2 linked regions of the Homo sapiens genome follow. The protein of the gene in region 2 interacts with the protein of the main gene of each other region in a pairwise test. Each region holds a gene or a part of one and is shown on either strand. Other genes may lie near its edges.

Region 1 (7,030 bases), on a different chromosome or scaffold from region 2:
CTCCAGGCCCTAGATTAGTGGTCATCTTTCAGAGAATGGCTAGAACTCGAGTCTTCTGGGATAGCCTACTAACACGCTTTACCATTGAGGAGTGTCTTCAAAACTCACATCATCTGAATTGCCATGCGTCTCTATATGTGAAAAGTAATTGGAAAGTGTTTCTTGTAGGGGGAAATGTTTTAGGGTTGTTGGGTATCAGTCCTAGAGCTGATTTATGTATATTTTCAACTTAAAAATTATTCCATAGAAATATTTGTGTTGCCGCAGGGGTTGTTAGCTGGGAACCCCAGTGTGTTCTGCTTTGCCTTTCACCCTGTCACAGGGGTTTTCACCTTGACGGCACACTAGATTCACCCAGAAGCTTTTAAAAATGGCAGCACATGGACTGCATCTCAAGAACTTCTCATTTTGGTTGACAGGGGCAGGGTAGAGACGTCACAATATTTTAAAAGCTCCCCAGCCGATTCTAATATGTGCCATGGGTGAAGCTCTAATGCATTCCAAATTGTTAGGAGGAGTAAACAGTTTAGAGAAGAGGTTGGTACCAGTGTGAAGAAGCATATAGAAGCAGAGCAATGCTTCCATAGGATTCTTGACTTTGTCACCCTGACTGCCTTGACCTGGTCACGGCTATGTAAGGCTGACCCTTAACTTGATGTGTAGCTGTGAACCCAACAGTTATGAGCACAAAGATAGTAAACTGAGGCCAGTAGGAGTGCCCAGTTCGGGTTGACTCCTGTGCTAGTTCAAGACAAAAATTTCCTAAATATATATGACGTTGGTTTGATACAGAACCAGCTTTTCTGTTTTCCTGTCCCCATTTAAAAATCTCCTATGTCAATTATACTAGTCTAAAAGACTCCTAGGCCTAATCTGTCTGATAAATTTCTGACGATCTTATTTCTGAGTCAGTCTCACCAACGTCTCTATACATTAATTAACATTATATACATACTCTTGATAACTTTAATAGTTAATATCTATTCTTTTCAGCAAGTTAAGCCCCAAATATTTTTTATTTCTATTTTAGATTTTGGGGGAGGGTTTGTGTATGTAGTGAAGGATCCCCAGTGACTTTCAGTTTTTATACAAGAAATCATTAATAAAGCTAAGAAATTAACTTAGCACATTCTGTTCATCTCTTGTATCAAGTGCAGTTTGTGATCATGTTGTTTTTGTCTAAAAACTTATTTGTAAATTTTTACAGTTCTAAGAATGTATTTTGTGCAATCATAAAGGTTTTATATTAATATATAAGTTATATAATTCACTCTGAAATATCTCAAAGCAAATATTTCTGAAATAAGTAAAATAGTGGTTCTCAAAGTTTTTGGTCATTACATACCTTTACATTCTTAAAAATCATTAGGGACCCCAAAAAACTTGTTTGTGGGTTTATATATTTTGATATTTACTATATTAGAAATTAAAACTGAGAAAATATATATTCATTCAAAAATAATACATTTTAACATAAGTAGCATTTTTTAGTGAAAATACCTATTTTCTATAAACCCTCCAAGTTAATAAGAATAGTGGCATTGTTTTACACATTTACAAATCTCTAATACCAAGCTTAATAGAAGACAGCTGGTTCTCATCTGTGTTTGCATTCTAACTGTTGTGCTATCACACATCATGTAGCCTTTGGAAAATTCCACTATACACATGGGAGAATGAGAATGAAAAAGGCAAATAAATCCTACTAGTATTGAGAAAGGAACTGTAACCTCAAAGACCCTCTGAAAGCGTCTTTGAGAACTACCTTATGCACTTTGAGAACTACTGGTGAATTATTTAATGATGAGGGAACTTTGAGAAAAAGAACTCTGAAGTTCCTGAATTTGAAGATTATTTTACCTTTAGTGGACAAAAGAGTAAATATAAGAGAATGTGACAGTTTGTGTCTGTAGATAGTATTTCCTTTGCAAATTTATCATTTTGAAGGATTTCATTACTACTGAAAAAGTGCAGAACATTTTGGGAGTAAGAATGCTCAATTTCATTTAGCCTTTTAATATCACATAAATTTTTCTTGTATAGGGTTATGATATATTCTCTGATTTGCTTTTTCAAAGCCATACTGCTGTAACTTTTAATTTTCTAATTTCTAGTAGAGACTAAGTCATTTGACAAAGTGAGAATTAAAACTAATAGCTGAATTCCTTCTCTTCTAGCCCTTCGCCACAAGAAGATGGGCAGATCATGTTTGATGTGGAAATGCACACCAGCAGGGACCATAGCTCTCAGGTGTGTCGGGGGGATTCTGATTTACAGTAAACAATTAAGAAAGATGTAAATTCTCTAAGTATATTTTGCTAAAATAAATGTGAAGACTTTTAGGAATAGTTTGAAGCTATTATTGAGTTTCTGATTTTGGAATTTATTTAGGATGATATAGTTCTTGTCGCACTCCTTTACAACTAAGGATTTTGGGCCCTGTCACTCTAAACGAATTGGAAAATTCTTGTCCATAATAAATCATGCCAATACTCCAGGCTAGTTTCTTGAGTGTATAAGTAGAAAAAGACTGAGATAGATGCTTTAAGACCACAGAATAGGGAGGAGCCAAGATGGCTGAATAGGAACAGCTCCGGTCTACAGCTCCCAGCATGAGCGACGCAGAAGACGGGTGATTTCTGCATTTCCATCTGAGGTACCGGGTTCATCTCACTAGGGAGTGCCAGACAGTGGGCGCAGGCCAGTGGGTGCGCGCACCGTGCGCGAGCCGAAGCAGGGCGAGGCATTGCCTCACCTGGGAAGCGCAAGGGGTCAGGGAGTTCCCTTTCCGAGTCAAAGAAAGGGGTGACGGACGCACCTGGAAAATCGGGTCACTCCCACCCGAATATTGTGCTTTTCAGACCGGCTTAAAAAACGGCGCACCACGAGACTATATCCCACACCTGGCTCGGAGGGTCCTATGCCCACGGAATCTCGCTGATTGCTAGCACAGCAGTCTGAGATCAAACTGCAAGGCGGCAGCGAGGCTGGGGGAGGGGCGCCCGCCATTGCCCAGGCTTGCTTAGGTAAACAGAGCAGCCGGGAAGCTCGAACTGGGTGGAGCCCACCACAGCTCAAGGAGGCCTGCCTGCCTCTGTAGGCTCCACCTCTGGGGGCAGGGCACAGACAAACAAAAAGACAGCAGTAACCTCTGCAGACTTAAATGTCCCTGTCTGACAGCTTTGAAGAGAGCAGTGGTTCTCCCAGCACGCAGCTGGAGATCTGAGAACGGGCAGACTGCCTCCTCAAGTGGGTCCCTGACCCCTGACCCCCGAGCAGCCTAACTGGGAGGCACCCCCCAGCAGGGGCACACTGACACCTCACACGGCAGGGTATTCCAACAGACCTGCAGCTGAGGGTCCTGTCTGTTAGAAGGAAAACTAACAAACAGAAAGGACATCCACACCGAAAACCCATCTGTACATCACCATCATCAAAGACCAAAAGTAGATAAAACCACAAAGATGGGGAAAAAACAGAACAGAAAAACTGGAAACTCTAAAACACAGAGCGCCTCTCCTCCTCCAAAGGAACGCAGTTCCTCACCAGCAACGGAACAAAGCTGGATGGAGAATGATTTTGACGAGCTGAGAGAAGAAGGCTTCAGACGATCAAATTAGAGTGAGCTACGGGAGGACATTCAAACCAAAGGCAAAGAAGTTGAAAACTGAAAAAAATTTAGAAGAATGTATAACTAGAATAACCAATACAGAGAAGTGCTTAAAGGAGCTGATGGAGCTGAAAACCAAGGCTCGAGAACTACGTGAAGAATGCAGAAGCCTCAGGAGCCGATGCGATCAACTGGAAGAAAGGGTATCAGCAATGGAAGATGAAATGAATGAAATGAAGCAAGAAGGGAAGTTTAGAGAAAAAAGAATAAAAAGAAATGAGCAAAGCCTCCAAGAAATATGGGACTATGTGAAAAGACCAAATCTACGTCTGATTGGTGTACCTGAAAGTGATGCGGAGAATGGAACCAAGTTGGAAAACACTCTGCAGGATATTATCCAGGAGAACTTCCCCAATCTAGCAAGGCAGGCCAACGTTCAGATTCAGGAAATACAGAGAACGCCACAAAGATACTCCTCGAGAAGAGCAACTCCAAGACACATAATTGTCAGATTCACCAAAGTTGAAATGAAGGAAAAAATGTTAAGGGCAGCCAGAGAGAAAGGTCGGGTTACCCTCAAAGGGAAGCCCATCAGACTAACAGCGGATCTCTTGGCAGAAACCCTACAAGCCAGAAGAGAGTGGGGGCCAATATTCAACATTCTTAAAGAAAAGAATTTTCAACCCAGAATTTCATATCCAGCCAAACTAAGCTTCATAAGTGAAGGAGAAATAAAATACTTTACAGACAAGCAAATGCTGACCGATTTTGTCACCACCAGGCCTGCCCTAAAAGAGCTCCTGAAGGAAGCGCTAAACATGGAAAGGAACAACCGGTACCAGCTGCTGCAAAATCATGCCAAAATGTAAAGACCATCGAGACTAGGAAGAAACTGCATCAACTAACGAGCAAAATCACCAGCTAACATCATAATGACAGGATCAAATTCACACATAACAATATTAACTTTAAATGTAAGTGGACTAAATTCTGCAATTAAAAGACACAGACTGGCAAATTGGATAAAGAGTCAAGACCCATCAGTGTGCTGTATTCAGGAAACCCATCTCACGTGCAGAGACACACATAGGCTCAAAATAAAAGGATGGAGGAAGATCTACCAAGCAAATGGAAAACAAAAAAAGGCAGGGGTTGCAATCCTAGTCTCTGATAAAACAGACTTTAAACCAACAAAGATCAAAAGAGACAAAGAAGGCCATTACATAATGGTAAAGGGATCAATTCAACAAGAGGAGCTAACTATCCTAAATATATATGCACCCAATACAGGAGCACCCAGATTCATAAAGCAAGTCCTGAGTGACCTACAAAGAGACTTAGACTCCCACACATTAATAATGGGAGACTTTAACACCCCACTGTCAATATTAGACAGATCAACAAGACAGAAAGTCAACAAGGATACCCAGGAATTGAACTCAGCTCTGCACCAAGCAGACCTAATAGACGTCTACAGAACTCTCCACCCCAAATCAACAGAATATACATTTTTTTCAGCACCACACCACACCTATTCCAAAATTGACCACATAGTTGGAAGTAAAGCTCTCCTCAGCAAATGTAAAAGAACAGAAATTATAACAAACTATCTCTCAGACCACAGTGCAATCAAACTAGAACTCAGGATTAAGAATCTCACTCAAAGCCGCTCAACTACATGGAAACTGAACAACCTGCTCCTGAATGACTACTGGGTACATAACGAAATGAAGGCAGAAATAAAGATGTTCTTTGAAACCAACGAGAACAAAGACACAACATACCAGAATCTCTGGGACGCATTCAAAGCAGTGTGTAGAGGGAAATTTATAGCACTAAATGCCCACAAGAGAAAGCAGGAAAGATCCAAAATTGACACCCTAGCATCACAATTAAAAGAACTAGAAAAGCAAGAGCAAACACATTCAAAAGCTAGCAGAAGGCAAGAAATAACTAAAATCAGAGCAGAACTGAAGGAAATAGAGACACAAAAAACCCTTCAAAAAATCAATGAATCCAGGAGCTGGTTTTTTGAAAGGATCAACAAAATTGATAGACCGCTAGCAAGACTAATAAAGAAAAAAAGAGAGAAGAATCAAATAGACAAAAAATGATACTACAAACACCTCTACGCAAATAAACTAGAAAATCTGGAAGAAATGGATACATTCCTCGACACATACACTCTCCCAAGACTAAACCAGGAAGAAGTTGAATCTCTGAATAGACCAATAACAGGAGCTGAAATTGTGGCAATAATCAATAGTTTACCAACCAAGAAGAGTCCAGGACCAGATGGATTCACAGCCGAATTCTACCAGAGGTACAAGGAGGAACTGGTACCATTCCTTCTGAAACTATTCCAATCAATAGAAAAAGAGGGAATCCTCTGTAACTCATTTTATGAGGCCAGCATCATTCTGATACCAAAGCCGGGCAGAGACACAACCAAAAAAGAGAATTTTAGACCAATATCCTTGATGAACATTGATGCAAAAATCCTCAATAAAATACTGGCAAACCGAATCCAGCAGCACATCAAAAAGCTTATCCACCATGATCAAGTGGGCTTCATCCCTGGGATGCAAGGCTGGTTCAATATACACAAATCAATAAATGTAATCCAGCATATAAACAGAGCCAAAGACAAAAACCACATGATTATCTCAATAGATGCAGAAAAAGCCTTTGACAAAATTCAACAACCCTTCATGCTAAAAACTCTCAATAAATTAGGTATTGATGGGACGTATTTCAAAATAATAAGAGCTATCTATGACAAACCCACAGCCAATATCATACTGAATGGGCAAAAACTGGAAGCATTCCCTTTGAAAACTGGCACAAGACAGGGATGCCCTCTCTCACCGCTCCTATTCAACATAGTGTTGGAAGTTCTGGCCAGGGCAATCAGGCAGGAGAAGGAAATAAAGGGTATTCAATTAGGAAAAGAGGAAGTCAAATTGTCCCTGTTTGCAGATGACATGATTGTTTATCTAGAAAACCCCATTTTCTCAGCCCAAAATCTCCTTAAGCTGATAAGCAACTTCAGCAAAGTCTCAGGATACAAAATCAATGTACAAAAATCACAAGCATTCCTATACACCAACAAGAGACAAACAGCCAAATCATGAGTGAACTCCCATTCACAATTGCTTCAAAGAGAATAAAATACCTAGGAATCCAACTTACAAGGGATGTGAAGGACCTCTTCAAGGAGAACTACAAACCACTGCTCAAGGAAATAAAAGAGGATACAAAGAAATGGAAGAACATTCCATGCTCATGGGTAGGAAGAATCAATATCGTGAAAATGGCCATACTGCCCAAGATAATTTACAGATTCAGTGCCATCCCCATCAAGCTACCAATGACTTTCTTCACAGAATTGGAAAAAACTACTTTAAAGTTCATATGGAA
Region 2 (7,030 bases):
GGAGAGGTTTTCTGTGTTGACTTGTTTTTAATACAATGGACAGCTGGACAAAGTGTGTTGTCCTACTCAGAGCCAGAGGGATGGATAATGTGACCTTTCCATCAATCTGGATAGTAAATAGTTTTTGCTACTGCTGTAGGTTTTCTAATAAATTGCCCAATAGGCAAGATTCCAAAGTCACTTTGTCCTTCCCTACCACTTACCCAGCCAGAGCTCCCCACCTTCTTGATGCTCCAGGGAAGAGGCTCCATGGCCCTTGTGGGTGGCCTGTTCCTGAGCCTCGCCACCCTGTGTTAGAGCAGAGCATCCAGATGAAATCTGTCACACTGTGGCAAAGTGGCTCAGAGAGGAGGCTGGCTTCCTAGCATTCAGGGACGTTGCTGAGGGCCGCTTATTCACCGAAAATAAATCTTGAAAAGGACAGGGCTGGTAGCAGAATGATCCTTTACCTAAAATTCTATCAAAATCCCATTCTTCCATTTGGAAAGCCCACAGTGTCACAGACTCTGTTCCGGGCTCTGTCCTCTTCCCTCTTGGGTCCCAGGAGCCCAGGCTGGGCTTTGAAGCAGGCAGGGCCCAGCACACAGTAGGTACTCAGCAGTGGGGGTGTTGAATCCAATCAAACGGAAGTGTCAATGCAGGAAATGCAATGGATGTCAATGCAGTCTCCAAATGTTCCCCACTGTGCAGCTTCCACATTCCCGAGGTATTGGGAGGGGACTTGAATTAACAGCTTCGGGAGGCCTGAGTCCCTGCCTCCCAGCTGAGGAAGAAGCTTAAATCACAGGGCGCTGTGTCTGTCTTCCAGGCCCTGTCTCTCAGGCTCCCTGGTCTCCCTGCACTGTCTTGGTGAGTACCCCCAATCTCTGAGGGTTTGGGGCCTGGGCCAGCAATGAGCAGGGAGGAAGACCTTCATCTTCACTCCTAAATTTCTGGGACTCCAAGTTTCATTCTGCCTTGGTCTACAGCCCTTGGGCTTGTCGGTCAATGCCCCCTCGAGTTGTTGGTGGCCTTGGGCAGGTCACATTCTTTTTCTGGGTCTTTCCAAGCCCCAGTTTCCCCCTTCTACCATCTGTGCATGGCTCCATGACCTAAGTGGAGACCTGGGAGAGAGTGTTAGGAAGACCGAAAAGGGCAGGACGGGGCCTCCACTGCCTCCCATCCCTGGTCCGGGCCCACATAGCCTTCTTTGTCACAATCAGCTCAGGTATCCAAGATCAGATTACCCACATTCATTATTTGAGCAACTATTCATTGAACAGTTAGAATATGTCTCACTCTGTCAGTTGCTGGCTAGAAGTAGAAAGTACCAGATGAGTGAAATAATTGGCCACTATCCTTGGTAGCTGATGACTAAGTAAGAGAGAGATGCAAGACAACATGTGGAAAATGCCAAACTGAGTAGCAGTCACAGTTGACATGCTGCAGAGAGAGCTGGCCGGGGGTCAGAAGACCTGGGCACCAGTCCTGTTCATTTCCAGTGTGGCCTCGAGTCATTCACCTGACCTCCCTGAAGTTCATTTTCCCAAGAAGTTGTTTAGTCCAACTGCCCATCAAGGATCTTTAGGGACCCTTCTAGCTCTAACAGAGGAGATCAGAAAAGAAAACAAGCAATGTGGCTCAGCTCATCCTACAAGCTTCATAGAGAACTGAGACTGGCCTGGAAGCATAGCCAGAAATTAGAACGCCTAAGGGAAGAAGGTCACAACGCTGCCTCTGCAATTTAGGAGTGTATATGCTTTCCTGCAGGATGTTGAGAGTTTCATTCATTATCGTATGCCCCCTACCCCGGCCCCACAATACCTAGTGCGTGGGATCTGACACGTGGTGGCTGGTCAATGAATGAATGAATGAATGGTCACACCATCTGAGGTTCTGCACTGAGTAGCCCTGAAGGCTTGAAGCAGCATAAGTGACAGGTCCTCCCTTGAGGGGCCTCTGTTTTACCAATAAGCCAAGACCTAAGCTCAACAACACTGAAAGGGTGGCCAATACCCAGGACAGCCTGTGGGAATTCCAGAGAAAGGGAGATTCCCAGGGACTGGGGGCCCAGGCTAAACACTGAAAAATGCATCTGTAGGCTCAAGGAGGAAAAGCCCATGTCTGTCTGTCTTGCCCACCACTCTCTCCCAGCACCCAGCACTGCCCCAGGACAGAGAGCACTTGACACAAGTTGGTTAGATTAATGAATGATTTAGAGTTCAGTGGTCCCCAACCTTTTTGGCACAAGAGACTGGTTGCATGGAAGACAATTTTTCCGCAAACCAAGAGGGGGATAGAGAGCATTAGATTCTCTCTTTTTTTTTTTTTTGAGACCAAGTCTGGCTCTTGTCACTCAGCCTGGAGTAAAGTGTTGCGATCTCGGCTCACTGCAACCTCCGCCTCCTGGATTCAAGCGATTCTCCTGCCTCAGCCCCCTAAATAGCTGGGATTACAGGCACCCGTCACCAGCCCAGCTGGGACTATAGGCATGTGCCACCATGCCCGGCTAATTTTTGTATTTTTAGTAGAGACGGCGTTTCACCATGTTGGCCAGGCTAGTCTCGAACTCCTGACCTCAGGTGATCTGCCCGCCTGAGCCTCCCAAAGTGCTGGGATTACAGGCATGAGCTGCCTCACCCAGCCTAAAGTCTCATAAGGAACGTACAGCATAGATCCCTCACATGTGCAGTTCACAATAAGGTTGTGCTCCTACAAGAATCTAACGCCACCTCTGATCTGACAGGAGGTGAAGCTCAGGTGGTCATGCTCGCTTGTCCCTGCCACTCACTTCCTAATGTACAGCCAGGTTCCTAACAGGCCACGAACCAGTGGGAAGGGCATCTTTTTGGATCAAAAACAGAATTACTTTTTAGAGAACTACAAGCAGATCAATTTGGCTAGACAGAGACTTTATATGAAACAGCAGGAGGCTGCTAGGAGGAGTGGAAACTCTACTTTGCCCTCAAGGGAGATCCCGAAGGGCTTTGCAGGAGCGGGCAAGGTGGCATGAAGAAAGCAGTGTTTGAAATCAGGTGGTATTTGAAAAGCCCAGCCCTTCCCCTTAGAATGGCCCTTCTACCATCTGTGCATGGCTCCACAACCGTGGTGGTGGCTGCCAGAAGAATTGGAAAGGCAGAGCATGGGTGGAGAGGGGGGACCTGAGGGCTTTACAGGAGTTCCGGGGGTGGTGAGGGTGTGAAAGCCAGGTCAGTCAGTAGGAAGACAGGATGTCAGATTGAGAGACTCCCCTGGCCGGGGAAACAGACTTGGAGAAGGGGGAGTTTTGGATGAGACAGTCCACTTCCGAGTCACAAAATAGCTTGTGGGTGTCTGTTTACTGTTACTCAGTGGGAGTGGCTGGGGACACGCCACCTGGGCAGGGCTTTCGTAATTCTGCATCACTTGTGAAGGTCACAGATTCCCAGCACAACGGACACACCCATGTTCATAGTCTGAACTCCTAAACACATCTTAAACCAAAATAAAAAAAAAAGAAAGAAAGAAAGAAAAAGGAGAGGGAGGTTTGAGGAAAGCCTATGGTCTGGGACACTCAATACCTCCCATGAATATCTCATATTGGGCTGGTCCTCTCTCCACTCTGGCCCCAGCCATAAGGGCCCTGCTTAGAGCAGATTTTGGGTGCTGAGTGGAGGCAGCCTCATCCCCAACAGCCTGACTTCCTGCCTCCTCCCTGCCTCTGCCTGTGTCCAGCCTGTGGGAAGAGCCTGAAGACCCCCCGTGTGGTGGGTGTGGAGGAGGCCTCTGTGGATTCTTGGCCTTGGCAGGTCAGCATCCAGTACGACAAACAGCACGTCTGTGGAGGGAGCATCCTGGACCCCCACTGGGTCCTCACGGCAGCCCACTGCTTCAGGTAAGACCCCAGCTGTAAGGAGGTCTCTGGGGACCAAGGCCAGTCAGGGACCAGAGAGCTTGGGGTCCTGTCTCCTGGCACCGTCCTTCTCTTCACTCTCCCACTAGAGACGTTTTCCAGGTTGTGGTGGCCCCAATGAGACAATGGCCATGATGCCCTTTGTTAGGCTTTTGGGTGTCTGAGCAGAGGGTGCTGGTCACCAAGCATGGCCTCTTCCTGGTGGGACACCAGCAGATACCCAGAGTCCTCACCCCACCCCCATATCGTTCAAGCTACAAAAGCTCTTCCCACCTGCCTCAACTTCCAAGAACTCACTCTCTTTTTGCTTGTTTCCAGGAAGTTGTTCCAGGGTCTAGAGTCATAGCCACGTCCTCATTATGTCTGGAAACTTTAAAAAAATTAAAGAGCATAGGTTCCTTTCAGTCCACAGAGAAGCCTGGCCTTACCTCAGGGAAGGGCTACTCCCAGACCCCCTTCACTTTTTTTTTTTTTTTTTTTTTTTTTTTTTTTGAGACAGAGTCTTGCTCTGTTGCTTAGGCTGGAGCGCAGCAGCATGATCTTGGCTCACTGCAACCTCCGCCTCCTGAGTTCAAGCAATTCTCCTGCCTCAGCTTCCCAAGTAGCTGGGACTATAGGCATGGGCCACCATGCCCGGCTAATTTTTGTATTTTTGGTAGAGACAGGGTTTCACCATGTTGGCCAGGCTGATCTCTAACTCCTGACCTCAAGTGATCTGCCCACCTCAGCCTCCCAAACTGCTGGGATTACAGGCATGAGCCAGGGCATCCGGCTTTTATTTATTCATTCATTCAATATCTAATGAGCACCTACCAGGTACCAAACACCAGATGATGCGCCCAAGTTCATTAGACCCCACCGCTGTCTTCAAGGCACTCATGATCTAGGCCAGCGTTTTTTAACCACTTTTTTTTTTTTTTTTTTTGAGATTCTGGTGAGAGCTATAAATTCTTTCCTGGAAAAACATCTCTGCACACTAAGCTGTGCCTGGCATTGGGAAAAAGAAAGCACGTAATGTAACTGACAGCATGAGTAACACAGTGAGAAAGGTTGGAGGAGAGAGCGCCAGGACCTCAGAACTCAGGCATTAGAGGAGCCCCTTCCCCAGCCCTCCTTGAGGTTTCGTTGGGCAGGTTTCACTGAGGAAAAAGGGTCAAATCCCTTTTTCGAATTTGACTTCTTGTAAGTGCCAGAAGACTGCCCCTTCTCCACCATCCCTGCCTCACCATCATCTTTCCTCCCAAGGCAGTGACATCCAGCACCCCGATCCCTAGGGCCCTGGGGACCCAGCCTTTGGCAAAGTCTCCTCAGGCTTGGATCAGGCCTGAACCCAGCTGTCTCTACCCCCAGGAAACATACCGATGTGTTCAACTGGAAGGTGCGGGCAGGCTCAGACAAACTGGGCAGCTTCCCATCCCTGGCTGTGGCCAAGATCATCATCATTGAATTCAACCCCATGTACCCCAAAGACAATGACATCGCCCTCATGAAGCTGCAGTTCCCACTCACTTTCTCAGGTGAGAAGCAGGGCCCAAGGCCACTCAAGCCTCTTACATCAGTTTTCACGCCCACTCTGCTATTAGCTCACTGACCGCCCTTGGCACATAATGTCTCCTCTCAAGTCCTCAGCTTGCCCATTTGTCTCTAATACGTCAGCCTAACATCACTGATGCCATGAGGCCTCCTCAAGCTGTCAGCTAACACCTCCACTCCATTCCCTGCCAGAGATTCTTCCAAGGCCTGTCTTCCCTATGTGGAGCCCCTCGAGTGAGAACTGGAGTTTCATCCAATCTTGGAGTTTTAGGAGACCTTTTAAAAAGATTATCGAGCTAATTCCCCACCACTGACCAACACGCAAGAGCCTGCTCAGTATCCCTGCCAAGGAGTCATTGTGCCCCTGTTTGCTCTCCTCCAGGGGCAGGGAACCCATTACCTGTGAGGCAGCCCACAGAGTCTTTGAACAGCTCTGTTGGATGCCTTGTGCTTATACTGAAATGTATTTAGATCAGGATTCCCAACTGTGGGGTCCACAAGACACTGGCCCCTTGGAGAAGAGAGGATTCCATTGTCAAATAAGTTTGGGGAACATTTTCATACTACAGCTCCCTTCTTGGAACACATTAGTTTATTAAAGGTAGGAGAAGTTTTTAAAATAATCTGTTTTATTGCGTTTAACCTACATTTTTTAAATTTATTTGACCACAGAATCCTTTTTTCATGCTACTTCTATTAGCATCCCATAGAACAAGTGTTCTAGAGACCCTGGTGTGACCCCTTTCAGAGAGCTTAACTGCCAGGCTCTCCTGAGCCCTGGTGTGTGTTTCAAGATTTGTGCCTGGGAATTGTTTTAATCAGGTATGGCAAGGTGACAGATACAGACACAGCTATCTTTGAAAGAAGAGTTTATTATTTATAATTCCTGAGAGAAAGGGACATACCCCACCCCCCAACACAGGGACACCCGGGGAAGCAGCTGGGTCCACCAGGAGGCAGGAGTGAGGGGAAGGCATGGCCCAGAGCCACCTGTGGCTTCCATGGGCAGGTCTGGCCAAGGTAGGGTAGGCAAGATTGAGCATGCTCAGGATTGGATAGTGTGGACAATTCTCTAGGCTATAGATGTCAGCCTCTGGTTGTCTAGTATCTGTCCCTGGGGTGATTTAGGGCAGGGAAAATATTGGCTTGGTGTCTGAGAGTCAGATAAAGGAAGTGGTTGGGGATATGGGCTTTGGGTTGGCTGGTTTGCCTATTAAAGGCGTGCCCAAAGCCAAGTTGTTTACTATCTGCAGGAATTAGCTAACCCAGTCTCTCCCAGACCAGCAAGATCCCCATAATCATAAAGCATCATAATTTACAGAAAATTAACACTTATGATGAATAAAAGATCTCCTTCTTCCTCTGTGCTCCTGGCAGGCACAGTCAGGCCCATCTGTCTGCCCTTCTTTGATGAGGAGCTCACTCCAGCCACCCCACTCTGGATCATTGGATGGGGCTTTACGAAGCAGAATGGAGGTAAGTCCTGGGTGCAGGACCACAGGGCAGGAGATGCCCTTGTATGAGGGAGCAGCTTCCAGAAGTAATGGGAAGGAGGACCACCCTTCAGAGAAACCCATCCTGGAGGACCAAGCACCAAGGCGCCAGGCAGAAAGCAAAGTGGTTTGG

What was found. Proteins that work in one complex are often made in the same cells at the same time.
Region 1: the proteins of TMPRSS4 (region 2) and BNIP3L interact in binary tests that used the Homo sapiens proteins (3 or more experiments, as listed by UniProt).

Annotation. Positions count from the first base shown.
Region 1 is NC_000008.11:26,393,053-26,400,082, forward strand, and holds part of BNIP3L (BCL2/adenovirus E1B 19 kDa protein-interacting protein 3-like), read left to right. Parts: intron 1-2,177; coding exon 2,178-2,250; intron 2,251-7,030.
Region 2 is NC_000011.10:118,108,048-118,115,077, forward strand, and holds part of TMPRSS4 (transmembrane protease serine 4), read left to right. Parts: intron 1-808; coding exon 809-849; intron 850-2,004; coding exon of another isoform or gene 2,005-2,186; exon of another isoform or gene 2,187-2,350; intron 2,351-3,693; coding exon 3,694-3,853; intron 3,854-5,221; coding exon 5,222-5,388; intron 5,389-5,875; coding exon of another isoform or gene 5,876-6,003; exon of another isoform or gene 6,004-6,018; intron 6,019-6,781; coding exon 6,782-6,880; intron 6,881-7,030. UniProt on the Homo sapiens protein: Plasma membrane-anchored serine protease that directly induces processing of pro-uPA/PLAU into the active form through proteolytic activity.